6 separate regions of the Homo sapiens genome follow, and regions 1, 2, 3, 4 and 6 are each linked to region 5. Evidence: fine-mapped expression QTL. A gene starts in region 5. Each other region holds a variant in brackets. All regions are shown on one strand. Distances are between the middles of the regions.

Evidence for each region.
Region 1: its variant is fine-mapped to the expression of NCAPG2 in whole blood (GTEx, PIP 0.97). The same link has a PIP of 0.9 or more in aorta.
Region 2: its variant is fine-mapped to the expression of NCAPG2 in stomach (GTEx, PIP above 0.99).
Region 3: its variant is fine-mapped to the expression of NCAPG2 in sigmoid colon (GTEx, PIP 0.98).
Region 4: its variant is fine-mapped to the expression of NCAPG2 in whole blood (TOPMed, PIP 0.98).
Region 6: its variant is fine-mapped to the expression of NCAPG2 in whole blood (INTERVAL, PIP 0.98).

What each region holds. Positions count from the first base shown.
Region 1 is chr7:158,815,381-158,820,514 of GRCh38, forward strand. All of the region lies in intron 1 of ESYT2 (extended synaptotagmin 2), which reads right to left. Among named protein-coding and RNA genes, the nearest start is that of ESYT2, 12 kb to the right of the region's middle. RefSeq lists an enhancer at 3,036-3,195. The variant G/A (reference allele first, on the strand shown) is at 2,071.
Region 2 is chr7:158,623,665-158,628,798 of GRCh38, forward strand. No RefSeq gene overlaps it. Among named protein-coding and RNA genes, the nearest start is that of MIR5707, 35 kb to the left of the region's middle. The variant C/T (reference allele first, on the strand shown) is at 2,276.
Region 3 is chr7:159,133,732-159,138,865 of GRCh38, forward strand. All of the region lies in intron 2 of VIPR2 (vasoactive intestinal peptide receptor 2), which reads right to left. Among named protein-coding and RNA genes, the nearest start is that of VIPR2, 8.6 kb to the right of the region's middle. The variant T/C (reference allele first, on the strand shown) is at 2,451.
Region 4 is chr7:158,744,285-158,749,418 of GRCh38, forward strand. ESYT2 (extended synaptotagmin 2) reads right to left here. Exons shown (of 23, transcript NM_001367773.1): 16 at 3,910-3,996. Among named protein-coding and RNA genes, the nearest start is that of NCAPG2, 42 kb to the left of the region's middle. The variant G/A (reference allele first, on the strand shown) is at 3,063.
Region 5 is chr7:158,702,330-158,707,463 of GRCh38, forward strand. NCAPG2 (non-SMC condensin II complex subunit G2) reads right to left here and starts at 2,475. Exons shown (of 28, transcript NM_017760.7): 1 at 2,395-2,475. RefSeq lists an enhancer at 1,236-1,814 and silencers at 2,392-2,491, 2,642-2,731, 2,852-3,131.
Region 6 is chr7:158,734,249-158,739,310 of GRCh38, forward strand. ESYT2 (extended synaptotagmin 2) reads right to left here. Exons shown (of 23, transcript NM_001367773.1): 19 at 4,775-4,873; 20 at 2,800-2,931; 21 at 1,255-1,360; 22 at 174-223; 23 at 1-4. Among named protein-coding and RNA genes, the nearest start is that of NCAPG2, 32 kb to the left of the region's middle. RefSeq lists an enhancer at 1-798. The variant G/A (reference allele first, on the strand shown) is at 2,686.

The sequences.
Region 1 (5,134 bases), 110 kb after region 5:
TTCTACACCCTGGGGTGGTTGTTCACATTCCTGGCTCACTCATCTATCTTCCTTCCTCCCCAAAGCTATTCCCCTGACATTCAGGCACACTCCTTCCCCCTCATGCTTAGATATGTGTCCCCAGTCCCTCTGGATATCCCTGCCAAATGTATCTTGCTAAACCCCCCTTTTAAATTGGGACACATCCCTCTAGTGGATATCTGGATGCTGCCCTGTGTCTAGGGATCAAGCCCAACTCTTCCACTTGTGTAACTTATGGTGCTGCTTCCTGTGGTCATCTCAGTTCCCACAGTTCCTAACCCTTCTTCCCACTGCACAGCTCCTCCTCATCCCACCTCTGAAAGACCACATCCAACCTCAGACACCAGGACTACAGCCAAAAATGGAAAAAAACCTTAGTATTGAATCCAAGATGTGATCAATTATAAGCTGCACCATCACTTTATGTGCCACTAAGAGCACAGTCCATTAACAGTGATACACCCTTGTAAAATAAATCTGATTTCTGAGATGTTACGGCACGGGGAAAGTGCTGGAACTAAGCCTTCCTGGCTCCTGAATACTCCAAGAAACAGGGTAGTGTGGGAAGCTGAGTAACAGCCCTCAAAAGATGGTCACGTCCTAATCCCTGGAATTTGTGAGTGTCGCTTTATATGGCAAAAAGAACGCTGCAGATGTGGTAAAATGGAGGATCTTCGCTGGTGGAGGACTATCCATAAGGCCCTAAATGCCATCTCCAGTATCCTTAAAAACGGAGGAAGTCCAGCCTGGGCAACACAGTGAGACTCCATCTCTACAAAAAATGTTTAAAATTAGCTAATTAGCTGGGTGTGGTGGTACAGGCCTGTAGTCCCAGATACTCGAGAGGCTGAAGTGGAAGGGTTGCTTGAGTCCAGGAGGTCGAGACTGCAGTGAGCTATGATCACACAACCACACTCCAGCCTAGGTGCAAACAGCTCACTGCAGCCTCAATCCTTGTCTAACGAAAAGAAAGAAAACAGGGAGGAACAGAGATTTGACAAAACAGAAAGCAGAATGGCCCCATGAGGATGAAAGCAGCTGCCAGCTCTGAAGGGAGAAGGGCCTGCAGCCATGGAATGTGGCTGAGAAGCAAGAAAAGCAGGAAAAGCTTCTCCCCAGGAGCCTCCAGAGTGCACACCCTGCCCACCCCTCAGTTTTAGCCCAGAGGAACTGATTTCCAACTGCTGGCCTCCAGAACCCTTAAAAGATAAGAGTGTTGTCTGAAGCCACCAAGTTGATGGCACTTTGTCACAGGCGCCCTAATGCACCAACCATGTCATCCTTTCCCTCCTGCTCCAGTACTCACGTTGACATCTACGGAGCATTTCTTTTAAAACTTTGCTTCACACACAGCACCATTTGTGATTAAGTAAAATCAATTCTTTCTACTAGTTACTGGATAAATTCCAAGATCTTTATATGTGTGAAAAAATAAGTAGGAAGAGTATTGTTACTTTGTATTGGATTACATTTGGAGTTTCGGTTTCAAAAGTCTAGCACTCAGATATTAATGTAGACGGTGTTAACAAATTTTAGGTACGCACTTACTAGCCATTTAAAGATTTGTAGCACAAATGAAATAAATTAATGATCTCAGTAGGCAATTCACTTCTAATTGTGTATAAATATCAACACCAGCTTTATATAACATTTTACAAATTGGGTACAAAGTATAAACCAAAAAGAAAATTCTAAGCTCCCAACTATCTGAACAGCTCCTCCTCTCTGCCAGAGGCATTCCAAAGTTAACCTGTAAAACTACTTCAGGCCACGATGAGGGGGTGGGGCATCGGACACACCTCATTACCATGACACAGACTTAAGACTGACAGAACTGACAGAAGAACTGACAGACTCTTTAAGTCTGACAGGAAACATTAACCATCTATTCTCTCTGAAGCCTGCTACCTGGAGGCTTCATCTGTACAATAAAACCTTGGTCTCCACAAGGTAATCCAGACATTCCTTTATATTGATTCCAGGTCTCTAGACAGTAACTTAACCAATTGCCAATCAGAAAAATCTTTGAGTCCAGCTATGATCTGGAGC[G/A]CTCCCCACACCAACCTGCTTCCAGGTGTCCCACCTTGCTGAACGAATGTACCCGCTTCCAGCTGTCCCACCTTTCTGAACCAATGTACCTGCTTCCAGGTGTCCCACCTTTCTGAACCAATGTACCCACTTCCAGGTGTCCAACCTTTCTGAACCAATGTACAGCTTACATGTATTGATTGGTGTCTTATGTATCCCTAAAACTTACAGGTCAACCCCCTTGGGCAAATGTCTTGAGACTATGTCACCAGCATCCTTTAAACCTGGCAAAATAAAATACTAAATTAATTGAGACTTGTCTCAGATACTTTTGGTTTACAGATTAAACTAAATGCTTTAACAAATATATAACAAAGTTTCATAAGAAAATGGAAGGTGAAAGTATCATTCAGATTAATAATTTTAGCAATTTGATACTGGTTCTCAAAATGTGAGCAGCATAATCAAAAACTAGCATATAATAGGTACTCCAGTATAATATTTATGGCATGAAGTTAGATAATGTTCTCCCAAATCACTGGATTTATTTTCTACAGATCTACCTTACTCTGGGAAACTTAAAACATATCAATCCCTCAGACAGGAAACAACTCCACATATAATACACGTTAAAATTAAACTATTACAACTGACCCCGAAATAGGATGTGCACTTTCAAATCCCCACTTTTTAGTCACTAACCAGCACTTATTCACAAAAGGAAGTTAATGAATATTAGAATAATTAAATGTTATATGTACAAAATGTAAAATTAACTATCATTATCTATGGCATCAGGATGACTCCTGGAAGTGGAGTCAAGAAAGATTAGCCATGTCCTTGGAACAATATTTGTTTTAAGGAAGATACAGAGCAAATCAAGGCAAGGAAGAGGAGTGCCACTGTAGGCTCCTTGGATATTATTTTAGGGATATACAGAGAGGAAGAGAAAGTGAAATTTTACGGCACACATACTTGCAAGTGTTAATAACAACAAAGCATTATGGTAGATAAATTCTTAGCAACAGCGTAAACAAACCACGGTGGAACAGAAACAAAGAAAAACCCCAGGGCTCATCTGTTCCATTTCAGCAGAGGTGGGGGAGGGAGGTGGCAAAGGCCACACCAGGACTTGCCTGCAAGCGGAGCACTGGTCACAGCTGGGCATCTCTGGGCCTGTGACTCAGACGGCTGACCCGAGGACATGCCTCCCTGCCCGCCCATGTCCAGTGTGTTCACTGGCCTCTCCGCATTCCAGCCTCACAACCACAGCACAGAGTCAGGCTCAACCCCCATCAAACCAAAGAGGAAACAAGGTTCTAAGAGTTGGACCTGACTCACCCAAGGGCAGGGAGTTAGGAAGGGGTGGGTCTCAGGGCGCAACCCACACCCACCAGAGCCAGAGCCTGAGCTGTGGGCTCTGCGAGACGGTGGGAGCCTCAAAGCTAACCAGAGGCCGGTGGCCACACCTCAGCACACCCCACAGAAGGGCAGCCCCACTCGCACGGGCCCTGGCCACATGACTGGTCATGTCCAGACAAGGACACACCAATTCAACAAATCATCATGGGAACCTCAAAGTAGCCATTACTCAATTGTGCTACACGAAACCATGGCAGTTAAAAATACTTGTAACTGTTAGCAAACTTTAATATACCAACACAGCACAGGGGAAGAAAAGCAATCTGAAGTTGTGACTCATTATGGAGGGAATGCTTTCTTCCAAAGGTTATTCAGACAAAAAGAGATAGGGATAAATCCTCTGTCTTTTAACAACATACCATGCAAAAACAAACACTGCCTTCCAAGGCCAGACTTCTGCTTACAAAATTATCATGTCTAATGAGTTCAAAAATAATTCATATATCCTAGACACAGATCTAATAAATAGCTCAAGTAAATACGTTTTCATAACTTAAAAAGAGCAGAAAATTAAATATCTCAAATTCTATTTTTAACTCTTCTCATTATATCATATCTCACAATCTAGTTTTTCAAATGTCTATCAGACATCATTTAAATAAAGTCTGGTAGCTTCATAAGACAGATGATACTGCAATAGTCAAAGTCATATTTCTGAAGAATAACATACTATCCATAATATAGCATTTAAGAAAGGAGGATACTATACACACCCATATATCCAAACATATCATTAAAACATTAACAAAATCCACGGAAATGTTGCCAATGTAATGTTATCACTAGTTAGTAGAATTGCAGGTAACGTTTTTCTTCTTTATTCTCCTCCAAAGCTTATTCTTCAATGAGCATACTTTCTTCTTTAAATCAGAAAAAAATGTTTTTGAAACCTGTCTAGCCATAACATAAGAAATGAAGAAAAATACAACTACATGTTCATTAAATATAGAAAGATAAAGGGGGACTTCACCGTGTAACTGAACAAATTAAAAAAAAGAAACTCAGTTTCAATGACAATTTTACAAGTAATAAAGAAAGCATAATGAAAACCATCATATTAGTATTTCCACATCTGCTGTTGGTGTGGTTATCACTAATTCCAGCACGCAATCACCAAGCACAAAACTGAAGCTGTTATCCGAAAGGACACTGCTGCTGCAATACACAAGTGCACGTGGGATGTGCTTCTTACTTTGTACTGATACTTTCATCTAGACACTGCCGTAATCCATTAAACCCCATTCAATTTATACTTTACTAGCAACTACCATTATGGATGGTTTGGTATTATGGATGATCTTTTAAATATATTTTTTCTTGGATTTTAAAAAAGTGAACATGTATTATTTTTACTAAAAGAATGGGGGAGAGTCTAGAGAGATATTAACAAATGGATAAAACATTTCAATTACAAGGAATGAGTTCAAGAGATCTATTGTACAACACTGTAACTATAGTTAGCAACAATATAATATATTCTTGAAAAAGTCACTAAGAGTAGATTTTCTAGTGTTCCACCACAAAAAATGGTAAGCCCGTGACATAATGCATTTGTTAATTAGCTTGATTTAGCACATTCTACAATGTATACATATTTCAAAACATGTTGAACACAATAAAAATAATACTTTTATCAGATAAAAAAATAACAACAGCCAGGTGC
Region 2 (5,134 bases), 79 kb before region 5:
GATAGGCCGAGTGTGTTAGCTCACACCTATAATCCCAGCACTTTGGGAGACCGAGGCAGGTGGATCACTTGAGGTCAGGAGTTCAAGACCAGCCTGGACAACATGGTGAAACCCCGACTCTACTAAAAATACAAAAATTAGCTGGGCTTGGTGGTGCATGCCTGTAATCCCAGCTACTCAGGAGGATGAGGCAGGAGAATCACTTGAACCCGGGAGGCAGAGGTTGCAGTGAGCCAAGATCACGCCACTGCACTCCAGCCTGGGATGACAGAGCAAAACTCCGTCTCAAAACAAAACAAACAAACAAAAAAGTGATAAAGAGATCATGAAGGCAGACAGAGACACGAAGGTGGGACTGGCAGTAGGATGCTCATCAGTAACCAAATAAGGCACAGTAAAACATGCTTAAACTCCTGGGAGAAAAATATCAACGCAGGATTCTCTTTCTAGCAAAAATACCTCAGAAACCAACCTAGGCAAGATGGCAAACCCGTCTTTTTTTTTTTTTTTTGAGACAAAGTTTCGCTCTTGTCACTCAGGCTGGAGTGCAACGGAGCGATCTTGGCTCACTGCAACCTCCGCCTCCTGGGTTCAAGTGATTCTCCTGCCTCAGCCTCCCGGGTAGCTGGGATTACAGGCACCCGCCACCACACCTGGCTAATTTTTGTATTTTAGTAAAGACGAGGTTTCAACATGTTGACCAGGCTGTTCTTGAACTCCTGACCTCAGGTAATCCACCTGCCTTGGCCTCCTGAAGAGCTGGGATTACAGGCGTGAGCCACCACGCCCGGCCCAAATCCCTGTCTTTACAAAAAAAAAAAAAAAAAAAAAAGCCAGATGTGGTGGTACATGCCAGTAGCTCTAGCTGCTTGGGAGGCTGAGGCAGGAGGACTACTTGAGCCCAGGAGGTCAAGGTTGCAGTGAGCCATGATTGAGCCTGGGTGACAGAGCAAGACACTGTCTTTAAAATTTTTTAAACCTTCAAAAATGAAGGCAAAATACTCTTCCAGATAATCAAAAGCCGAGAAAACTCATAACTAGCAGATATATGCTAAAGAGATATTAAAGAAAGCTCTTTAAAAGAAAGAAAATGACACCATATGGAAATCTGAAACTGCACAAAGGAAAGAACATTGCCAGAAATAGTGAATACGTGGATAAACTTAAAAGACAATTTTCTCTCATGTTTAAATCTTTTAAAAAGTTAATTAACAGTTTAAAACAAAAATAATGACAATGAATTTTGGGAATAACATATGTAGAAGTAAAATGTATGACAATGATAGCACAGCGAACAGAAGGTGGAGGTAAGCTGCTAAGTTTGTGTGCAACTCATGAAGGGATACAGTATTTTTTGAAGGTAGATATGTTAGTTAATAGATGTGGGCCAGGCGCGGTGGATCATGCTGGTAACCCCAGCACCTTGGGAGGCCGAGGCAGGCAGATCATGAGGTCAGGAGTTCGAGACCAGCCTGGCCAAAATAGTGAAACCCCATCTCTACTAAAAATACAAAAAAATTAGCCAGGCATGGTGGCAGGCAGCTGTAATCCCAGCTACTCGAGAGGTTGAGGCAAGAGAATCGCTTGAACCCAGAAGGCGGAGGTTGCAGTGAGCCAAGATCACCCACTGCAATCCAGCCCAGACGACAGTGTGAGACTCCATCTCAAAAAAAAAAAAAAATGCATAAAAAGGATTTGACAAAATTTTAACACCTACTCACGGAAAAAAATTCTCAGAAAACTAGGAATAGAAAGGCACTTCCTCATCCTGATAAAATGCATCTATAAACAACCTACAGTTTATTGAGCTGTGGAAGACTGAATGCTGTGCTGTGGAGACCAGAACAAGGCGAGAGTGCCTGCTCACACCACTTCCAGGCTACATTTTACTGGAGGTTCTCACCGGCACAAAAAGGAAAAGCAATAAAAGCATCCAGACTGGAAAGGAAGATGTAAATGGCATTTATTTTTAGATAACCTGATCGTCTGAGTAGAAAATATGACAGAGCCTATAAATAAACTACCACAAGTCATCAATGAGCTTAGAAAAGTAGAATACAAAGTCAACATACAAAAAGAAACTGCCTTCCTCTATTCCAGTATAAACAATTAGAAGTTGAAAATTTAAAAATACTACCATTTACAACAGCTCTATAAAACACAAAATACGTAGGGATAAATTTAATAAAACATATGGAAGACCTATATCATGAAAATGACAAAATATTGGGAGAAATTAAATGTCTGAAAAACTAGACAATGGTCATGGATCAGA[C/T]GACTCAACACTGTTGAGTGTCAATTCTCCCTCTGCCCGAAGAGCTTAGCAGCCTAGCAGCCTAGCCTCAAACTGTGTTTCAAACTGTTTTTTCTTTTCCTTTTCCTCTTCCCCTTCCCAGTCTCAAGATAAAACTTTGAGACAAACTGCATATGTGTTACCTTTCATCTCGAAATACAGCCTTGGAATGTGCTGCGAACCTCCACTCCCTTTCATTTTTATTTTTGGAAACAGTCTCGCTCTGTCGCCCAGGCTGGAGTACAGTGGTGCAATCTCCGCTCACTGCAACCACCACCCCCTGGGTTCCAGTGATTCTCCTGCCTCAGACTCCCAAGTAGCTGGGATTACAGGCGTGTGCCACCACGCCTGGCTAATTTTTTGTATTTTTAGTAGAGATGGGGTTTCACCATGTTGGCCAGGCTGGTCTGGAACTCCTGACCTCAGGCAATCCACCCACCTCAGCCTCCCGAAGTGCTGGGATTACAGTCGTGAGCCACCGAACCCGGGCCCTCCACTCTTCTTTCTTTTCCCACTGTATGCTCCCATGCTTTATGCACATGTATTTACCCAGATACTAGTTAAGCACACACCATGCTCTCTTATCTGGCCATTTATTTGCTTAGAAGCTTCAGGGGTCGGGTCCTAAAAGGGACTAGGCAACTCCGGAATTCTCTTTCCAACAAAAGATTATTTCAAGGCCAGAACCCTCTCCTGGCTGAAGAGTGACTACAAGATTGACTGTGATTAATTTATAACCTGGTAGGATGCACAATGGTGCCGGCCCCTTCACCAAATGGGACAATAATTCAAGAAGGGCCACTGAAGCAAGTCACGCCACCTGGCACCTCTTAGTCCCCCTTGCCTCTTCCGCATTCCAAACCCTTTCTGTAAAACCCTGCGTTCCCTCCACAAACTGAAGAGTGGAACTGCTCTTCCCCTTGCCTGCACAAATAATAAAGGAATATCACTCTTTCTCATCATAACTTATTATTTTGCCTTCTTTCCATAAGTGGCCGGACTCTTTTTGCGAGTTAATCCCCAGCTTGATCTGTAAATTTAGTGTAATCACAATCAGAATTGTACTGCATGTTTTCGTCTGTAGAAATTGACAAATTGATTCTACAATGTATATGAAAAGGCAAAGGAGCTAGAAAAGCCAAAACCACATCAAAAAACAGAAAGCCAATTGGGGACTTGCAATTCACAATTTTAAGACACAGGTACGGCTCAAATAAAAAGGACCCTGGGAATTGGCGTAAGGATGGCCATAGCTCAGTGCACAGAAAAGACTCCAGAAAGAGCCCACACAGGTATAGCCAACTGCATCTTGACGAAGATGCAAGGTGATTTCATGGAGGAGGAAAGGGTGCAGGAACAACGGGATAATCATATGGGGAAAAACCAAAAACAACAAACTGAACTTGGACTCCACATCCAAGATTAACTTAAAATGGATTACACACCTAATCATAACAGCTCAAACATACACTTACACAGCAGAGCTTCTCAACATCACACCATTGACCACTGGGCTGGAATGACTCTTTGTTGCAAGGGCTGTCCCGTGCCTCCTACCTGAGGCATTTTGTGGCAACCCAGCCCACCAAGACACCTGTGCCACTGACGGAAAGAGGGGCAAACTCATGCCCAGCTGAGCCCTGCTGGTCTAGATGAAGGGCAGGTCCAGAGATGTGTCATGGAGTTCCTTGATAAAAATATTACCTTCTAATGGTGCAGGGACTACTAGATATCCATATGGCATAAAGAAATAAATAAATCCTTACCTCATACCATACATAAACATTAATTCAAAATGGATCACAGACCTAAACACAAGAGCAGAGCTTTTAGGTTTCGATAAGGAGATAATAAAAGCAGCCACAGACACCAATGTAGAAATAACAGCAAGATTCTCGGCCGGGCGCAGTGGCTCACGCCTGTAATCCCAGCACTTTGGGAGGCCGAGACGGGCGGATCACGAGGTCAGGAGATCGAGACCATCCTGGCTAACACGGTGAAACCCCGTCTCTACTAAAAATACAAAAATTAGCCAGGCATGGTGGCGCGCGCCTGTAGTCCCAGCTACACGGGAGGCTGAGGCAGGAGAATGGCGTGAACCCGGGAGGCGGAGCTTGCAGTGAGTCGAGATTGCGCCACTGCACTCCAGCCTGGGTGACAGAGCGAAACTCTGTCTCAAAAAAAAAAAAAAAAAAGATTCTCATCAGTTAACTATGCAAGCCAAAATAAAACATGTTATTTCATACAGGACAACAAATAAACATGGTTTTTTACATGTCTTTTTATATAGAACACAAAAAGCACAAACTACAAGAGTATAATTGATAAACAGGACTTCTTCAAAATTAAAATTTCCTATTTGAAAGACACCATTTTAAAAAATTAAAATAGGGCCAGGTGCGATGGCTCACACCTGTAATCCCAGCACAGAGGTCAGGAGTTTGAGACTAGCCTGGCCAACATGGTGAAACCCCATCTCTACTAAAAATACACACACACACAAAATTAGCCAGGCATGGTGACATGCACCTGTAATCCCAGCTATTCGGGAGGCTGAGACAGGAGGACTGCATGAACCCAGGAGGCAGAGGTTGCAGTGAGCCAAGATCGCACCATTGCACTCCAGCCTGGGTGACAGAGCGAGACTCGGTCTCAAAAATAAAATATAAAATAAAATAAAATAAAAATAGGAGCCACATACTGTAATACCCAACCCTAATAAAAGACTTGTATCCAGAACATCTAAAGAAGGCTTAAAACGCAACAAGACAAACAATGCAATAATACAACAAAAACAGATGAGAGACTTGAGCTGGTATTTCACCAACACAGATACATAAG
Region 3 (5,134 bases), 430 kb after region 5:
CATATAAACGAGATCTATTTTATTTGCCTAAAGAAAATTAGGTGCTTGTAAAAATTAAATATTTTGTGAGAAAAAAGGAACTAACCCAATGGTTTTCAAGTTCATCTAACTTGAGTAATCTTTAATAAATAAGAATGTCGATGATGTAGTAGAAATGGACATTCTACCTAGCTGAGCTAGTCAAATAAGCTCATTATTCCTGTTAAAAAATTTGTCAACAAGAAAAATAACCTGAGATGACAGGTAGTTTGATATTATCCGTCTGTTTAAAAACAGTTTCCAAAATATTTTTGAAAACTTGAAACTCTGAAATTATACTAAGTTAAATTAAATGATATTTACTACATATCTAGATCATGCCCAAATAAGATAAACTACTAAAACACTAATTCCTAAAAAGAAGTTTAAGCTCAAGTATTTTTGGCTTATTCTAGAGGAACTGGAGCTACCTAGGTCTGCCAGTAAGTGTGTCCTGTGCTGAGAAAGTACATGCCATTTAATAACTATGATATCATGTACTTCCTAATTCACAGTGCATATCAGTGTCACTAAGGATTAAGAATTTGAATTAACATGTGTAATTAAAATCACTGGAAATAAAGATGAAAGCAAACAACTGTATATGAAAAAAACAGAGAAAGTATGATGTGTTTTTAATAAGGAAAAGTATATGAGGTCTGTGTTTAAGGAAAAAGAGAGTACTTTTAACTTAAAGCAAGATGACTGATTGTTCCAGAATAAAAAAGAAGAAAATGAGTAAGAAAAAAACTGAGTGGGTATACACAGTTGTAGAAAGTCTGACAAAAGAAATTTTATGTGTGGTCAAACTACTAACATTAGAATGATTTTATTTATAAGTTTTTGTTAAAAAAAGCTTCAAGTACTGACACAAAGTGAGTTTGTTTTCTATTAATAGTGCAATATTTTCTTTCTTTTTTTTTTTTGAGACGGAGTCTTGCTCTGTCACCCAGGCTGGAGTACAGTGGGGCCATCTCGGCTCACTGCAAGCTCTGCCTCCTGGGTTCACGCCATTCTCCCGCCTCAGCCTCCTGAGTAGCTGGGACTAGAGGCGCCCGCCACCACGCCCGGCTAATTTTTTGTATATTTAGTAGAGACGGGGTCTCACCGTGTTAGCCAGGATGGTCTTGATCTCCTGACCTCATGATCTGCCTGCCTCAGCCTCCCAAAGTGCTGGGATTACAGGAATGAGTCACCGCGCCTGGCCAATAGGACAATATTTTCTTGAATATTGGTCTTCTCTTAATTACAAAAGTTTTTTTTTTTTTTTTTTTTTTTTTTAACATTTTAAGTAATTGGCCTAGAAAACAATGATTTTGTGTTTTATCAGGATAACTTATTAAGCTTCATGCTGTCTCTAGTCTTTGATTAGTTAAGAAAAGTGAGTCTTTAACATTAAAAAAGGGCCGGCTACAGGGGCTCGCGCCTGTAATCTCAGCACTGTGGGAGGCCAAGGCAGGCGGATCACTTGAGGAGTTCAAGACCAGCCTGGCCAACATAGTGAAACCCTGTCTCTACCAAAAATCCAAAAAATTAGTTGGGCATGGTGGCACATGCCAGTAATCCCAGCTACTCGGGAGGCTGAGGCAGGAGAATTGCTTCAACCCAGGAGGCAAAGGTTGCAGTGAGCCCAGATCGCACCCCTGCACTCCAATCTGGGTGACAGAGTGCGTGAGGCTCCGTTTCAAAAAATAAATAAAATAAAAATAATATTTAAAAAGGAAAGTTCTTTATTACAATCTGGTATCTGTTCCATAAAAACCTGCTGAAAAATGTTAATAAATGGGAGGAGGCCGGGCACAGTGGCTCACGCCTGTAATCCCAGCACTTTGGGAGGCCAAGACGGGTGGATCACCTGAGGTCAGGAGTTCGAGACCAGCCTGGCCAACATGGTGAAACCCCATCTCTACTAAAAATACAAAAATTAGCTGGGCGTGGTGACAGGCGCCTGTAATCCCAGCTACTCAGGAGGCTGAGGCAAGAGAACTGCTTGAACCCAGGAGGCGGAGGTTGCAGTGAGTTGAGATCATGCTATTGCACTCCAGCCTGGGCGACAGAGTGAAACTCCATCTCAGAAAAAATAAATAAATGAGAGGATCAGCCAACGCATCAGCAAATGTCAGCCGGACGGTTTAATTTCCACTCATCCCACGACACGAGGCAACCCTCAAACACACAGGTCCTGGCCATGAAGCCTTCAGGGAATCACAGGACTGGGTGCTGACCCAGAAAACTCTACAAAGCTTTGTGACCAAAGAGGTTCGAGTCCCAAGTCCCCTTCAGGAAGAGCTGCAGTCTGCTCATGTGTCTAAGTTTGCCTCTGTTGCTTATAACAACATACCGGAAACTGGGTAAATTATAAAGGAAAGGCATTTATTTCTCACAGTTATGAGGCTGGATAAATCCAGGGTCGAGTGGCCACAATGGCTTTC[T/C]TGCTGGCGGGGACTTTTCAGGGTTCCCAGGTGGCACAGGCCATCGTGTAGTGAGGGGGCTGAGCGTGTTGGCCCAGGTCTCTCTTCTTCTTATAAAACCTATCCCTTGAAAACCCACTAATCTATTAACGGATTAACCCACTTACGAGGGCAGAGCTTTCATGACCCAATCACCTCTTCAAGGCCCGTCTCTCAATACTACTACATTGAGGATTGTTTTAACCTAAGTATTGAAGGGGATAAATATTCAAACCATAGCAAATCAAAAACATGTGAGAGTCGAAGCCACCAAGAATCTGACAGGTTGCATGAAAGCGCACATTAGTGTCCATCCACAGTGGCCATGTACCCAAGACAACCACTGCTGCCCCGGAAGAAGCTGAGAGGTCACTGGCCACACACTGAGGAGCTGTGTGTGTGGTGAGCTGCATGCTGGCTGTGGGTTTCGTTTCCACTGACCCAGGTCTCTGAGCCTCTCAAGAACCCCCGCGTCAACACAGTCCTTGTGGAAGAACAGGCTGAGCCCAGGAAAAGGAGGAGGCCCCGACAGACAACATGCTGTAAAAACCATGGCTCATAAGTAAAGAATGTGAAATGGGTATATAAATATAAAATCATAAAAAATGAGGCCAGCAGGAATTGTTACTGCTGTGGCCATGTGGAGAAGCAGCCGCCACTCGTCACCAACCCCCACCAGCAGGACAGGAAGCAGCCAGGTTCTGAGGACACCCAGGCATACCTGGGGAGGAGGAGGCAGGTGTGAGAGCCCAAGGATGGAGGAGACAGAGATCAAGGGAGGGGAGTGGAGAAGGCAGAGAGGTATGCACCAGGAGAGGCCATCGACTGGTGGGAGCTTGCTGTGTCTGGGGTCACCAGCACCAGACTGAGCCCTGACCTCAGCAGGAGGGGTGGGGAGGAAGCTGACTCTGACCCCATCAGCAGCAGCTCACCTCAAGGGGCCGGCCGCCCACCCTGAATGGCTTCCTGTGACCCACTGTGGTCACCCAGGCAACAGCTCCGTTCTTCCCAGACAGGAGAAGCCATTAGTGCACTTCTGAGTGGCCCACTCCTTCACCTGCCAGAAACTGACTTCTCAACCATAATTCCCTTTATGATTCTTAAGCATTTTATTCAGGGTAAAAATTAATTCAGTGAGATTTGTTTCCTATAAAAAGTAAATATAAAGACATTACTTTAAAAAAAAATAGAGACAGCTTCTTGCTCTGTTGTCTGTGTTGTCCAGGCTGGAGTGCAGTGGTGCCATCATGGCTCACTGCAGCCTTGAACTGGGCTCAAGCAATCCTCCTGCCTCAGCCTCCTGAGAAGCTGGGACTATAGGTGTGTGTCACCACACCAGGTTAAGTTAAAAAGTTTTTTTGGTGTCTTGCTATGTTAATCAGGCTTGTCTTGAACTCCTGCCTTCAAGTTACCCTCCTGCCTCGATCTCCCAAAGTGCTGGGGTTACAGGCATGAGCCCATTGCACCAGGCATAAAGACATTACTTTAAGACTGTCCCAACCAATAAACAGTTATTAATTATTTAAATATCCAAGACGAGGAAATGACCTTAAAGAGTTTAGAAAATGGAAGAAATCTAGTCAAAAAGATCCAAAAGAAAAAAGTGACCAGGCTGTTTATCTCATCAGTCCAAAAAGTTATTTGGACTAGAACAAGGACCTACTTATATCAGAAAGAAAATGAAAAGGAAAGATATAGGCACCTTTTAAGATACAACTGACGTCTACACCATCAATATTGACATCAGAGGAACCTACTTCTCTGCTCTCTGCCGTGGATGCCAAAACTGCTCGGTTCAGACCTTCTGGAGCATAACACAGTGATTATTCATTTAGTTTCTTAGAACAGGTCTGCCTTGAATATCTGCTGAGGACCACGAACAGCGAGCTCCCACCAGAGCTCCAGCTCCCGCAGCAGAGGGCAGCATCGCAGGGCAGCTGAGCCGAGACCACAGAGCGAGGTGGAATGCTGCAGCCACACAGGGCCTTGGACCCTCCGAGGAGGGTCAGTGCCCACATGACGCTGTGAGCAAGAACCCATTTGTGGACACTGTCTGGTTTCCTCTGACAAAGAGAAACAAGCAAGAAGGGGTTAGGTGTAAAATGGGTTGTGATTAACCATATCCCACATGACACAACCGACACAGGAATGAGAAAGTGGGCTAAAATAGTGTCATTTGGTCATAGGAGATGGTGATTCCCATTTTATATGAGTGGCTTGAAGTTAACCCTCAAATGCTGGTGAAATATTTTATTCCCACCAACAAAACGGTCACTAGAACATTGTTTGTAGTAGCAAAATACTGTCGGCTACCTAAAAGTCCATGGACCTGGGAGAGACTAAAGAAACACATTAGAATACTATAGCAGCTCTTAAAGAGAATATAAGAACAAATGCAAAACAGTTGCCAAATACATTGTTACACTGAAATACAAAACAGAAAAGAAAAGCAAGATGCCGAGCACATGTGTGAAGAGTATGCCAGCTTCCACGTGTCTGGAAGGAAAAGCGGGGTCTACCCACGTGTGGACGTGTGCGCACCCCAACTCTCCAGGGGCAACTTGGGGCTGGCAGCAGTGAAGTCTGTAGAGACATTTCCCATTATATACATTTTTGAACAGAATTTTTCTATGTGCATATTAGATATATATATGTATATCACTTAA
Region 4 (5,134 bases), 42 kb after region 5:
TGATGTAATAATGACAAATGAGAAAAGCAGTAATGACAATAATGACCAATCGGTTCGGAGAACCCTGGGTTAATAGGCAATAGTCTACCTGTCTTTTAACCCCTGGGAAAATGGTGGCAATACACACTCATAACGATGTATACAGTTTCCATTCATGACATTTATGGAGACAATACATTTCTAAGTACCTTTTAAGCCTTCTCCATTCAAAATCCACATTAAAGAAAATTTACAGCAAGGCATTTAAAAATTTTTTAAAAAACAGAGGTGGATCTCACTATGTTGCCCAGGCTGTTCTCAAACTCTTGGCCTCAAGTGATCCTCTCATCTCAGCCTCCCAAAGTACTGAGATTACAGGTGTGAGCCACCATGCCCAGCCTCTTTTTCCTGTATAATAACCTTCTGCATTATCTCTGCAACAGGAATTATTCCTGTTAGATGGCTGTAATATAAAATAATTTAATCAAATAGAGTAAGAACTCTGAAGGTTTCTCAGGCTATACAAAAATGGTCAGAGAAATTAACACATAACTACTCAGGAAAACCTAAAAGGTTGATTGCATATTTCTTTTCAAACTAAACTATAATCACAAAAGCAGTTTTAAATGAAATAACTATGACAATGTTTGTGGAACTTTAAAAATTATTTTTAAAATCCAAGGTCCAGTAAGCATAGATTATTTTGAGAATACAGAAGTGCACTTTATGAAGGAAAAACCAGCTAGACAAAACACAAATCCTTTTGTATAAAACAGAATGTAAAAAAGTATCAGATTGGGGCAAAAGTAATTGCAGTTTCAATGGCAAAAACTCCAATTACTTTTGCACCAACCTAATAAAACAACCAACACAGAATAATGAGACAGGGTCAGGCAAGCGGCATGACCAGGTCTCCTAGGCCCGGCTGTTCACACTCACCTATCTAATGAGACAGGGTCAGGCAAGCGGCATGACCAGGTCTCCTAGGCCCGGCTGTTCACACTCACCTATCTAATGAGACAGGGTCGGGCAAGCGGCATGACCAGGTCTCCTAGGCCTGGCTGTTCACACACACCTATCAAGAGAGGTTCAAGATACAAGTAGCAAAAACAGAGGCTGAGGAAAAAAACATAAATTCAGAGATTTAAACGCCATGCTCTTCATACCTGATATAAGTAGTCTGAGAACTAGTAAGGCCCCAGAGGGCCTGAGCAATGGCAATGCCACCAACCACCCTGACCTACTGACATTCATGAGACACTCGCCAACACCAGAAAGGCACACAGCCTACAGGTGCACGTGGAGTGTGTCCCAGGACAGGCAGTGCTCTGGGCCATAAAGCCGGTCTCAAACATAAAAGGGCTCATGTCATACAAAGTATGTACTCTGACCACTATGGAATGAAATTGGAATCAATAATAGAAAGATTAAAAAAAAATCCCCAAACATATGGAAACTAAATAACAGACCAAAATAACCCATACACAGGTCAAAGGAAAAAACTGAAAGGGAAATTAAGGAAATAATAATAATCAAAAGGAGACATCAACGACAAGTCAAAATTTGTGAGATGTAGCTACAGAATTTAAAGTGAAATTTATTGGAGTAAATGCCTACATTATAAAAACAGAAATGTCTCAAGCTTCTTCTTTAAGAAACTAGAAAAAGAGAAGCAAAGACCCAAAGTAAGTGGGACTGAAATAATAATGATCATAGTAGAAATCAATGAAATAGTAAAAGAAAAGCAATAATGACAATTAAACAAAAAATTGGTTAAGAAAATAAAATCAATAAACATCTTGTAAGACTTATTAGGAAGAAGAAGAGAGAAGACAGGCCAGGCATGATGGCTCACGTCTGTAATCCCAGCACTTTGAGAGGCCAAGGTGGATAGATGGCTTGAGCTCAGGAGTTCGAGACCAGCCTGGGCAATGTGGTGAAACCGCATCTTTACATACATAAATAGACACACACACACACACACACACACACGCCCCTCCAACACACAAAAATTAGCTGGGTATGGTGGCATGCACATGTAGTCCCAGCCACTTGGGAGGCTGAGGCACACATACACACATACCCAAAACACAAAAATTAGCTGGGTGTGGTGGTGTGCACCTCTAGTCCCAGCCACTTGGGAGGCTGAGGCGGGAGGATTGCTTGAGCCTAAGAGGTCAAGGCTGCAGTGAGCCATGACTGCACCACTGCACTCCAGCCTGAGTGACAAAGTGAGACCCTGCCTCAAGAAAAAAAAAAAAAAAGATTAATAAAGCACCAATAATAAAGACAGTGTGATACTGGCATAAAGACAGACATATAGAACAATGGAACAGAAGGAATTCCAGAAACAGACCTATACATATGGGCAACTGAATTTCTGGAAAGTTGCTAAGCTAATAAATTAGGGCAAATAATAATCTTTTCAACAAAGACTGAACAACTGCACAAATGCTGAACAACTACACAGCCATATTAAGAAAAAGAGGCTGGGCACCGTGGCTCACAACTGCAATCCCAGCACTTGGGGAAGCAGAAGTGGGAACATCGCTGCTCGAGCCCAGGAGTCTGCGACCAGTCTGGGCAACACTGTGAGACCCTACAAAAAATAAAATAATTCTCTACAAAAAATAAAAAAATTAGCCAGGCATGGTGGTGTCTGCCTGTAGTCCCAGCTACTCCGGAGGCTGAGGCAAGAGAATCACTTGAACCCAGGAGTTGGAGGCTGCAGTGATCTGTGATTACACCACTGCACTCCAGCCTGGGTAACAGAGTGAAACTCTGTTCTCAAAAACAAAGAGGCGGGGTGCGTTGGCTCACGCCTGTAATCCCAGCACGTTGGGAGGCCACAGTGGGCGGATCAGCTGAGGTCAGGAGTTCAAGGCCAAGCCTGGCCAACATGGTGAAACCCCGTCTCCACTAAAAATACAAGAAATCAGCCAGGTGTGGTGGCGCGCACCTGTAATCCCAGCTCTCAGGAGGCTGAGGCAAGAGAATCACTTGAACCCAGGAGGTGGAGGCTGCAGTGACTGAGATCGCACCACTGCACTCCAGCCTCCATGACAGAGTGAGACTTCATCTCA[G/A]AAAGAATGAAACATTAAAAAAAAAACCCCAAACGTCTTACAAACTCAGTATTAAGAAGACAAATAACCAAATAAAAAAGACAGGCAAAAAAACTGAATAGACATTTCACCATAGAAGATACAAAGACCGTAAAAAAGCATAAAAAGGTGCTCAACGTCATTAGTAATGACGCTGAAACCACCCGGTAATACTCCTATCTACCCACTAACACCACAGCACTGGCGAGATGTGGGGCCCGCTCGACTCACATGCACTTCGGTGGGAATGTGACACGGCACAATCTCTTTGGAAAACAATTTGGCAGTTTATTAAGAAGCTAAACATGAACCTGGCAACCTGCTCCTGGGCATTTTACCCAACAGAATGAAGGCATATGTACACACAGTCTTGTATGTGATATTCACAGCAGATTTATATGTAATAGGTCTAAACCGGAAAGAACCCAATCTTTTATCAATGTCTTACTCACAGGTAAATGGATGAGCAAATTGTGGTATATCCATAACTACTACTCAACAATAAAAAAAGACAAACTGTGGGTATCTGCAACAACACAGGTAAACCTCAGAATAATTATCACCAGAGAATATAGACAACTAGAGGACATACCGCATAATTCTATTTGTATAAAATCCTGGAAAATGTGAACAGTAATCTACAGTGACCAAAGGCAGGTCTGTGTTTGCCTGGGGCTAGGGGAGGCCCGGGTTACAGAGAGATCTACCAATTGTCCTGATTCTGGCGATGGATCCCCAGGTGTATACACGGGTCACAACTCAGCAAATTGTATACTTTAAAAAGTCAATTATTTGTCAATAAATTGGTTAAAAAATGCAAATAAAATACCTCAACTTCAAGGTCCTGGCGCTTGGGATTGTGAATGAAGAAAGTGAAGTTTTCCTCCCACACAGGTTCATTGGTTTTGTATCGAATCTAGAAGAAATATCCAAATTATTAGCTCTGATATTTTCTGTGGAAAAGGGCTACTCATTTTATGTGTTTAGAAGCTTAGAATGAAAAATAAAAAGAAAATAAATAAAACAAAAAACTAGAAGCTTAGGTTGACCTTAATTAAATTCCAAGACATGTATTTGCAGGTATGCACTATTATGTATTGATGGTGGATGTGTTGAAAAGATAACGAGACGGTCTAAAGCCTTTAGAGTTTGTCATGAGGCCCCAACCTGTGCGCCCACAGATAAAGGCTTCGTGTGCGTGGCCTGGCCTCGGTTCTGTAATGACTTTTGCACCAACGTAATAGCTCCTCCGAACTGAGGAGGGTGAGCACTTGGGCACGTCTCTTAAACTGTTCACAATTCAGTGAGTGATGACCTGTAACTTCGGGCAATTTCTTTCTTTTTTTTTTTATTTTTTATTTTTTTTTGGTAGGGGGGACAGAGTCTTGCTCTGTCGCCAGGCTGGAGTGCAGTGGCGCAATCTCAGCTCACTGCAACCTCCACCTTCCGGGTTCAAGCAATTCCCCTGCTGCAGCCTCCCAAGTAGCTGGGATTACAGGCACGTGCCACCATGCCCAGCTAATTTTTTTTCTCCTGTAAGGAAAGTAGAACATATTACAGCAATATGTAATAGCCATACCCTCTTTTCAAGTCGTAATTCTAACTGTATTGGTTGAATTTTAAGCACTGTTGGTTTTCTTTTAAACTATTTATAGAGTGCTCAAGACAAACTTAGGAATTGTTCCCATGTGTCTACTCATAAAATCAAGCAAAAACATATTCATCTATTACTTTCTAATGTTATTTTTGTTTTGTTTTTTGAGACAGAGTCTTGCTCTGTCACCCAGGCTGAAGTGCAGTAGTGCAATCTCGGCTCACTGCAACCTCTGCCTCCCGGGTTCAAGCGATTCTCCTGCCTCAGCCTCCCGAGTAGCTGGGATTACAGGCACCCGGCACCGCACCCGGCACCATGCCCGACTAAGTTTTGTATTTTTAGTAGAGATGAGGTTTCACCGTATTGGCCAGGCTGGTCTCGAACTCCTGACCTCAAGGGATCTCCCTGCCTCGGCCTCCCAAATTGTGGGGATTACAGGTAGGAGCCACCACACCTAGCC
Region 5 (5,134 bases):
CCCTTTCTAAAGGCCATTCCTCCATCAAAAAAATCCCACTGTTAGTGTCATCTTGTTATTCAAAGTGAGATGGAAAACAGTGGCCCCGGGGGTCACCTGGGATCTTGTTAGACTATGCATTAGGCATGCTCAACCACAGCACCCTCCTCCCACCCCTTCGGGATAATGAGAGCTCAGGGGACTTTGTATACCCTCCATCCTGCCTGTGTTTTTCCAGGAAATTCTATTTCGCATTCACAATACCTGGTGCTACTGGTGCCCTACTGAAAAAACATCAACCTAAAGATGAGGTAATAGCAAATGATGGAACACATTTGCAGTAGGAGCCCCCTCACTTTAAAAATAAATGAAAACCACCTGCACCATTATAAATAGAGCAATATGGAAAATTATTGCCAATAATTATGGGGACAGAGAGTCATCTTAAACATATAATACTAGATTTTAATGTCCAAATTGAACAAAGCAAAAATAACCTCAGTTTAATGACTCCCGAAATAAGTTAACAGTGAAGTCTGGTCATCTCATTCCTCAACTCAAATGGCTGAACTATGAACTACGGTCATGGACCACATAACATTTCAGTCAACAACAGACCACATGTATGACCGTGGTCCCATAAGATTATAATGCCATATTTTTACTGTGCTTTTTCTATGCTTAGATATGTTTAGCGATGCAAATACTTGCCATTGTATTACAGTTGCCTACAGTATTCAGTACAGTAACATTCTAGGAGCAGTAGGCTACACCATACAGCCTATGTGTGTAGGCTACACCTCTAGGTGTAGGCAAGTCCACTCTGTGATGTTCATGCAATGATGAAATTGCCTAACGACAACGTGTCTCCCTCTTTAAATCAAGCATGACTGGCACATTTTTCACTGACAAAGAAAATGGGGAGGGAAGGGAGAGTGGCCAGTAACAAGCATAATGAATAGTGGCTAGGACAAATTCATGATTTTAGAAAAATAATCCAATAAGGTGCAGCAAACACATGGAATCATACATCTTCGCCCGGCAAGTCTGTGAACACTCTCCACTTTTTCATAGTTCTGGTCACTTTTCTTGTTTGCTCTATTTCCAAGTGTACCTCTTTGGCATGTTAGTCCAACTTACAGTAATACACTTCCTCTAGACTACCAAACTTATTCCTATATTTCCCATTTTCCCTCTTATATTAGTGACTGTAATTTTTTAATGGTTAATTTTTCAATCTATCTCCCAAAGTGGCAATATTCCATGTTTCTTGTACCATATGTGCATAAGACCTCAGCCCTGCAGCCAGAATGCTACTTTCAAGGTAAGGAGTCATCTCACCATCCAGTTATCAGTCCGAAGAGCAGGTTACTCTTCGCACAGGAGGTCTGGTACTAAATCAAGATGAGCATTAAAAAGAAGAAATCCCTGTTACCTTCTCACCACCTGTGACTTCCCACTCCGTCCCCAAACTCCTTCCTCATGGACACAACAAGAGGCACCAAACCAGCAACAAGAGTTCAGGAGACTGATGTCTCTGAGGACAATGCCCACGTCCACAGCTGGGGAGATACTCTCTGAGGGCAGTGCCTACACCCAGGGCTCAGGGGGACTCTCTCTAAGGGCAGTACCGACACCCAGGACTGAGGGGACTCTCTCTGAGGGCAGTTCCCATGCCCAGGACAGAGGGGGTCGCTCTCTGAGGGCAGTGCCCATGCCCAGGACTGAGGGGACGCTCTCTGAGGGCAGTGCCCATGCTCAGGACTGAGGGGGTCGCTCTCTGAGGGTAGTGCCCATGCCCAGGACTGAGGGGACGCTCTCTGAGGGCAGTGCCCATGCCCAGGACTGAGGGGGTCGCTCTCTGAGGGCAGTGCCCATGCTCAGGACTGAGGGGGTCGCTCTCTGAGGGTAGTGCCCATGCCCAGGACTGAGGGGACGCTCTCTGAGGGCAGTGCCCATGCTCAGGACTGAGGGGGTCGCTCTCTGAGGGTAGTGCCCATGCCCAGGACTGAGGGGACACTCTCTGAGGGCAGTTCCCATGCCCAGGACAGAGGAGGTCGCTCTCTGAGGGCAGTGCCCATGCCCAGGACTGAGGGGACACTCTCTGAGGACGGTGCCCATGCTCAGGGCTGGGGGGTCGCTCTCTGAGGGCAGTGCCCGCGCCCGGGGCTGGGATTTTCCTCCGACACGGACAAGAAGGACGGGCGTCGCTGAGCTGGGTAGGGGGGATGGCCCGGGGTCGCCAGTTCCGTCCAGTTCCGTCAGAGGCAGCACTGCCCGCACGCAGGTCGGCCGCCTCCTTAGGGGAGGGGAGGCTGGGACCCCGACCAGCCGAGGAGGGGCTTCCCGCCCGATCCCTGCTACTTCCCAGCCCCTGCTCTGAACCCAATCCCGGCTCGGCACCGCAGCTCTTACCTGGGCTCGGGGACCCGCCGTTTCCCGCGCTCGGACCAGATTCAAACGCACCCGCCGGCGCCCCAGACGGGCCCCGCCCTCCCGGTCGTCATCAGGCGCCGCTCTCGCGAGAGCTGGGGCGCCGCGAGCCTCGGGCCTCGCCCACACGCCCGGCCCGCCCCGCCTCCAGATCATGCCCCGCCCACATGCCCGCCAGTCTTCTTCCTGTCTATGCCCCGCCTCTTAGGGCGCGGCCTCGAGCAGCTAAGCCCAGTGCCCTACCGGGCACTACGGAACGCGCACGCGGGGCGCCACAGCTGGGGAACCCATGCCCGGTCCGCGCGCCGACGTCCACTGCGCGCTCGTGCGCGTCCTGGGGCCTCCGCGGAGGGAGTGCGCGGTCCAGGAGAGGGCGGGGCGCTGCGAGCGGGCGGTGTTGTGGGAAGGAGGAAGGAGAGGAAGAGAGAGAGGGGGAGAGAAAGGAAAGGCTTGGGGCGGGGAGAGGCCACAGGGCCGTGTCTGGATCCCCGGGAGGACCCCACCCCGACCTGGCCGGCCCCCGTGACCGCCCTCCCTGCCGAGGGGGCACCTGTCCGGGTGGTCCGCAGCCTGCACACGGTAGGTGCACCCTGGGCAGGTGCTTCCCCCGCAGGAGCCCCTCCGGCCAGGTGCGGCCCCTAACAGGTGCTTCTCCTGCAGTTGCTCCTCCAGCAGGTGAGGCCCCCGGCAGGTCAGCTGCCCATAGGGTGGAGAGGGAGAGGCCTTAGCGGGGACCCTCGGAGGCACCCGTGTGAAGGAGGAGTAGCAATGTCATTCAATTCTTTGGACTTAAATGCCAAAATCACATACTGATGTATCAATCTCTTTTAATTTGTGTCAGCGAATAACTTGATTGGGCGTTCCCAATTTTTGTTGAAAGCAAATTCTTAGAAAACGGTGCTCTTTACCACCGAGCTCTGCATCCCTTCGTGAGGACTTGGCCTTCCCTGGAGCTATATTCTTTCATGCTTGAGATGTCTAGAGTGGTATCTGTTTTCCTGGCTTAACTCAAGCCAGAGGTCTTGGCGAGATTGAAGTCGTTGCACTGTGGGAGCACAGCACCAACCAATAGGAACATCATGGGAGCCACAAGTGCACTTGTAAATTTCTAGTGACCACATTAGAAAAATGAAGATAAATAGGTGACATTAATTTTTAAATATGTTTTATTTAGCCTAGTATATCAAAAATATTTATGTTACTTGTTGGAATATCGTTTCAACAAGCAATATAAAATTATAGCAGGGAGAAGACTGGTTTACTAGGAAGCTTGCAACAGTGAAGCAAGGCAGGCTGCAGAGGGGAGGGAGAAGACCCACTCAGAGGATGCTGAGTCTGGGACCCTTGTCAACAGGTGGCCGATATCTAACATTGCCTATTTCATCCTGGGGCTCCAGCCACCTCTGACCTCCTCCTCCCTCCATACACAGATCCTTCCCTGCCATTTCTTGAATTTTGGTGCCCTCATCTTCTCACTGCTTTCTTCTTAGCAATTTCCTTCATATCCAAGGTGCAAACTGCCACCTTCAAGCAGTGACCTCTGCATCTGGATTTGCAAGACACGGTTATTTCTGAACTCCAGAATTTTCAACAGCTCACTGCCTACTCCCACGCTGGTGCTGACATGCATCCAAAACAGATATCGACTTCCCCTCCCACCCCTGAATCCTGCCCCTTTCCTTATGCTGGTCCCTCCTCCAATCAGCCATCTGTTCCTGGGGTTTCCACTTCCTGAGTAGGAATAATGTAACAAGTTACGCATGTGAGCTCTGAAGCTGTACCACCTGGGCTAACCTGGTTCTGTGCTCACTAGCTGGTGACCTTTGACAAGCCATGGACGACTGAGCCTCAGTTTCCTCATCTATCAAATGGGACCTACTTAAGTACTGAGCCTCCTCTAGGGGGTTGTTATGAGGCCTAAATGTCTGTATAATGCAGAGCTCAGCCTCCTCTAGGGGGTTGTTATGAGGCCTAAATGTCTATGTAGTGCAGTGCTCAGAGGCACGTGGAAGCAGGGCAGCAGGAGCGCCCAGTGCACCCCCAATGCACCTGCCCATGCAGCCACTAATGTCATAGGATCCTTTGGGTATCGCTTCACCAGCTAGAAACCTCCGTGGCCAGCGGTGCCTCTGCTAGAGTTTTGCTCGAGCCCACTCAGCCCAGCAGGTTGCACTCGGCTTGCACTACCAACCCAGATCCCACGCCTGCCAAGGGTGAGCCAGGTGCAGAGCGGCAAGGGGTATGTGAGCAAGCGAGCATGGGGTCCAACCACTGCGCACACCCAGCCATGCAGCTGCTGTGGTGGAGCAGGCAGCTCTAGGTGCCTGCACAGCTGCCGGCTCCATGCAAGGCTGTGGCTGGACCAGAGGTACCACAAGTGGCTTCCACTGCAGGCATCAGCATCTGGACAAGGGGAACATGGTGGCACCCGAAAGCTCACAGATGCCAGGAGCCACAGAGCCCCAAAGGGGGGTTACACTGTGTCACAGCCCTGGCTCGGGGAGCCCCGAGGTCTGGGCTCCCAGAAGGGCCACAGCTCTTCTGTCCTTCTCATCACCCACAGCGTGGCTAGCAGGGGGTCGTGTTTCCGGGGCGGCATGTTTCACCTCATTTGTGTTACAGGTCTTTTGGTCCTGCCGCCCCACACCGGTCCACGGCTCCTTGGCTGTCCCGGCCCCACCGCTGCTTCCCACTGCATGGGGTGGCCACTGGGCGCCAGCAG
Region 6 (5,062 bases), 32 kb after region 5:
ATACCTGAGAAAGACAGTGACAGGAAGGTGGTGACGGATACAGGACCAAGTAGGAAAAGCCTATCAGATACGTGTCGGGTTCCACCACTGTCTGTGGGGGACACTACCCACTGGGCGGGGAAAGCGTTTTTAGCTACACACTGGGGTTCTCTGTCTGCAGCAGGGACACTCACCACTGGGTCCAGCCTTTGGCAAGTTCTTCAGATGCCAGAGCAACCAATACCTGTGGGTTGTTAAAAAAGCAGTTAAAGTAGGCTGGGCTGGGGGCACTGGCTCCCGTCTGTAATCCCAGCACTTTGGGAGGCCAAGATGGGAGGATCTCTTAAGCCCAAGAGTTTGAGACCAGCCTGGGCAAGATAGTGAAACCTTGTCTCTATTAAAAGTAAAACAAATTTATCTGGGCGTGCTGACACGCACCTTGGTCCCAGCAACTCGGGAGGCTGAGACAGCAATTGCTGGAGCCCAGGCATTTGAAGCTGCAGTGAGCCATGATCGCGCCACTGGACTTCAGCCTGTGCTTCTACAGACCCTGTCTCTAAATAAATAAACAAATACATAAAGTAGGCTAAGACAATGTCTTTTAGATCTTTTACCACTTCTTCTCATCTCTCTAATCTTCTGTCTTCATCTAGGAATATGGACTCTCCCTTTTCTGAAGGCTCTTACTTTTTCAATCTTTTCTACCCCCCTGAGCACCTGTAAGCTACATCGCTGAATACATCTAAGAAATCCTTCATGCAACCAGCAGTCTTAAAATTCAGCTATGACGGAATATCAGCGGAGATGACTCACAGAAGGGTTGGCCCATGTGCCCTCCATGGCAGCACAGCTGACGAAATGATGCCCGTGACTCAAATCTCTTCCTCCCCAACTGAACCTACTCTCATTCCTAAATAACATACACTCACATGCCAAAGTGAAATGTGAAATACGGACAAAGAGTAGAAGAAATTCACATAAATAAAGCCAAAGAATTTTAGAAAAAGAGCAGAGCCATCAGTTGAGGAGATGGAATTGTAAGAGATTATTTTCCTTCAATGTGATACTTGAACAAAAATGTGAAGACTTAACTTAAAATATCTTCAGAAAGCACAGATGTTTTGACTGTCTTTATAGCCCATGATTTATAAACAAGCATCGACCTCGTAAGTTCGCCCCTTCCACTTACACAGACATGGTCTAAACACTGCACTGCAGGTAAATGTTCAATTTTACAAACTGCAGGAACTGGTTGAGGATTCGTTTGGCACTTACTTTGCCAAGGAGCCCTTTGTCTTTGGACAGGAAGCCGCCACTGTTCTTCACGGCAACGTCGAGCGTTCTCCTCTGCACTTCTGGTAACGAAACACTGAAATCAAAGCTGAAATAGGAAACGAGAGCCTTACTTTATCCATCATTCTGCTGTATTTTCTTATAACTAAAAATGGCATTTCTGCTCATGAGATCATTCCAAATGTCATGTTTGTTTTTTATTATAAAACTGAGTTCTTCTACCTAATGTTTTAATCTGGCATTTCAGGAAGACTCAAAAACCAACATTTTTTTCATTTCCCACACATAAAAGAAGGCTCTGGCATCCCATAGATGTCTGGGTCCCAAGGTCCCTGGCTCACTCACGGGTGGGTGAGGAGCGTCTCTCAACATGTCTGACTCTTCCAGGGGATTAAAATGTGGGATAATGTTGACAAAACAGCAATTCCAGAGCAGCCCACTCACTCAGGCTTTCCACTCAGTCTGGTTTAGTCTTCAGGCCCTATTCCCACCATCTCCAATAAAAAAAAGTATGTGCTTGCAGCTTCGCAGGAGGGAGAAGGCCTCCAAAGCACTCCCGATGCTCAGCCAGACGCTGCACTAAAGTGCCTGCAGGGCGTCTCTCCTCCGGGCTGCGGGTGCCTGCCCCAGGCCACCGTGCTGGGGGGCAAGTGGAGTCTCCAGACGCTTAAATGCCTCGGATGGGTAGGAGCACCCTGCACAACCTCATCGGGCTGATGCACGCCTGCCAGTTTCTGATGGGTGTTTTACATAAAGCTACTTGTATGAAAGTACAATGAATGAGGAGGATGTTTAAAGATGAAACGTAAACTGAATTAGCAGATAGCGACACCATACAACTGTATTATTATCATTTCCCAAAACAAGGGTGGGTTTTGAAGCACTAGGGGACAATCACCTAAGATACCAAAATGGTACAGATTAGCAGCTCTTTAAAAGTGGGGGCCAATGACCCCTGGGGGTGTCTCTGAGACCCTCCTAGGAGGTCACCAAATCACCCTGACCACAGAAGCAGGCTCCAGCCCCTCTTGAGCCAGACCACTAAAGAGATGAGCAAAAATGCTGAACAATAATACCATTCTTTTCATTATGTTTTTTATTTTTGGAAATACAGTTGTTTTTCCAATATGTCATACGGTAAGATGTTTGGGGCTTACTGTTATTTAAAAATAAAATTAAAAATATATGTATCCTTAAATTCTCAGTTTTAATTGATAACATAGTTAAGTGTCAACAGATATAACCCCCAAAAATGAGTTCTTCAGGGCCATCAGTAACCTGATCTTTATTTAATCACTAGTCTACATGTCCACAGGGTTGTAACTTGAATTTACTGTATTTAGAGCTTCTACATGAAGGTCAAAATGCTTATTTGTTTTGAGAAGTATGTTTGCTAAAAGTTGGTTTCTGATT[G/A]AACTTCTCAACAGCTGATTTATGTGCTTTGGCCACTCAAAGGCACCATTTAGGGCCTTCTTAATCCGTCACTTCAACCGGGCAGTCTATCCTCAGCTGGATAAAATACCGTACCTTTGATCAAACACTGGATTTAATGTTTTCTTTGACACGTGTGTTTTCCTCCTTCCTGACCGCCTCTTGTCTGGTAATAAATACATGCGGACATAGGGGTCAGAGCCGTCTTCAGAGAAGGCAATGAGGTTTCTTACAACACAAACCAGATAAGACGAGGTATTAGGACCGAGAAAAAGAGAATGAGCAGCACATTCAGATATGCTTTATCAAGCTTTGATTTCATGTTTATCTACAAACCGAGAAGCAACAAGGAACAGAATGCGTGAGGCGCTTTTGCCTCCCCCGACGGCTGCCTGGTGGCATCTCCCAAACTCCTTTCTTAGTGGCTTTCTCAGCAGCGACTTCGGCCTTCATTTCTCAAGCCCAGAGTTTGGAGGACGTTCCAAGTCCTTGGTCTCTGCTTGTAACAGAGTGACGGTTGTCTTTCCATAATGCTTCTGCCATTTTCTCTCTCACAGCCAAGAAAGCCAGGCCCCCACCCCACAGTGCCTACCCCTCCAGAAGGGGGCTGCTCCTTTGCAGCAAACGCGGTCAGGTGCCCAGCTGCACAGGCCCCCACATTCTTCGCTTGCTGACTGACCACAAAGTCTAGGAGGGATTGTTTTGCTAGACTCCTCTACAACAGTATCCCCCACGATCATTATCTAAGTGGCAAGAATATATGAACTTCTCAAGAGTGATGTACTGAACTCTACATTTTTATCATCTTTCTAAATGGTGCTAATTTTATTTTCCTATGTTTCCAACAGCTATTTATAAGCACCAAATTTTTATATCATATTTTAAACCACTAATAGGACAGAGAAAATTGCATAAAAGGAAAATAGTTCGTAAGCCCACAGTATCATTGTTAACAAATGCAATTAATGCAACAGTCACCTGACTTTATACTTATTAATATAACAAACAAGTTAAAATAAATTCTTCCTGATTAGGCCAGTCATGGTGGCTCAAGTCTATAATCCCAGTGCTTTGGGAGGCCAGGAATTAGAGACCAGCGTCTCCATAAAAAAATTAAAAATTAGCCAGGCCTGGTGGCTTCCACCTATAGTCCCAGCTACTCAGGAGGCCTGGCCAACATGGTGAAACCCCGTGTCTACTAAAAATACAAGTTAGTCGGACGAGGTAGTGCACGCCTGTAATCCCACCTACTCGGGTGGCTGAGGCAGGAGAATTGCTTGAACCCAAGAAGCGGAAGTTGCAGTAAGATGAGATTGTGCCACTGCACTCCAGCCTGGGGGACAAAGTAAAACTCTGTCTCCAAAAAAAAAAAAAAATACACACACACACACAGACACACACACACACACACACACACACACACACACTCTTCCTGCTCTAGGCTACACATTTGTACAGTATGCTACTGTGCTGAATACTGTAGGCAATTGTGACATATTTGTGTATTTTTTTTTCTTTTTGAGACAAAGTTTCGCTCTTGTTGCCCAGGCTGGAGTGCAATGGCACGATCTTGGCTCACAGCAACCTCTGCCTCCTGGGTTCAAGTGATTCTCCTGCATCAGCCTCCCTAGTAGCTGGGATTACAGGCATGCACCACCACACGTGGCTAGTTTGTATTTTTAGTAGAGACAGGGTTTCTCCATTTTGGTCAGGCTGGTCTCGAACTCCAGACCTCAGGTGATCTGCCCACCTCAGCCTCCCAAAGTGCTGGGATTACAGGCGTGAGCCACCATGCCAAGCCATATTTGTGTATTTAAACACATAAAAGGTACAGTAAAAATACAGTATGATCTTAGGGGACCGTTGTACTTCGGTGACCAAAACGTTGTCATGTGACATACGCAGTGGTGACACCCTTTACGAGCACCGTCTCTAGAGGTTTAATTGCTTTGTCCTTTCTAAATGAAACATAAATGGATGTTTGGAAATCCTAAAGGCGGTGTCTACATCATCCTATCCAGCATCCACACTCAGCAGCACAGCAGCGGGCGCGTGGGACCCCAGCCCCCACCTGCAGGCATGCACGACCACGATAAGCTTGTTTCTCTGCGAGCTGTGCCGGATGGTCAGCTGGATCTGCCCCAGTGGAGACTGTCCCAGGGTCGTCCCGCTGTGGGAAAAGAGCAGAAAGTCACCAGCTTGCCTGAGACTGGAGAACGTTGTGATTCATTGGTCCACTGTACACGATAAAATAATTTCTATTCATTTAGACAAAAAGAAGTCAAATTACCCATGAACTTAAACATAATTTGAAACTTCTGGGTACAAGTCAAACAGATGAATATTTTACTTGAGGGTT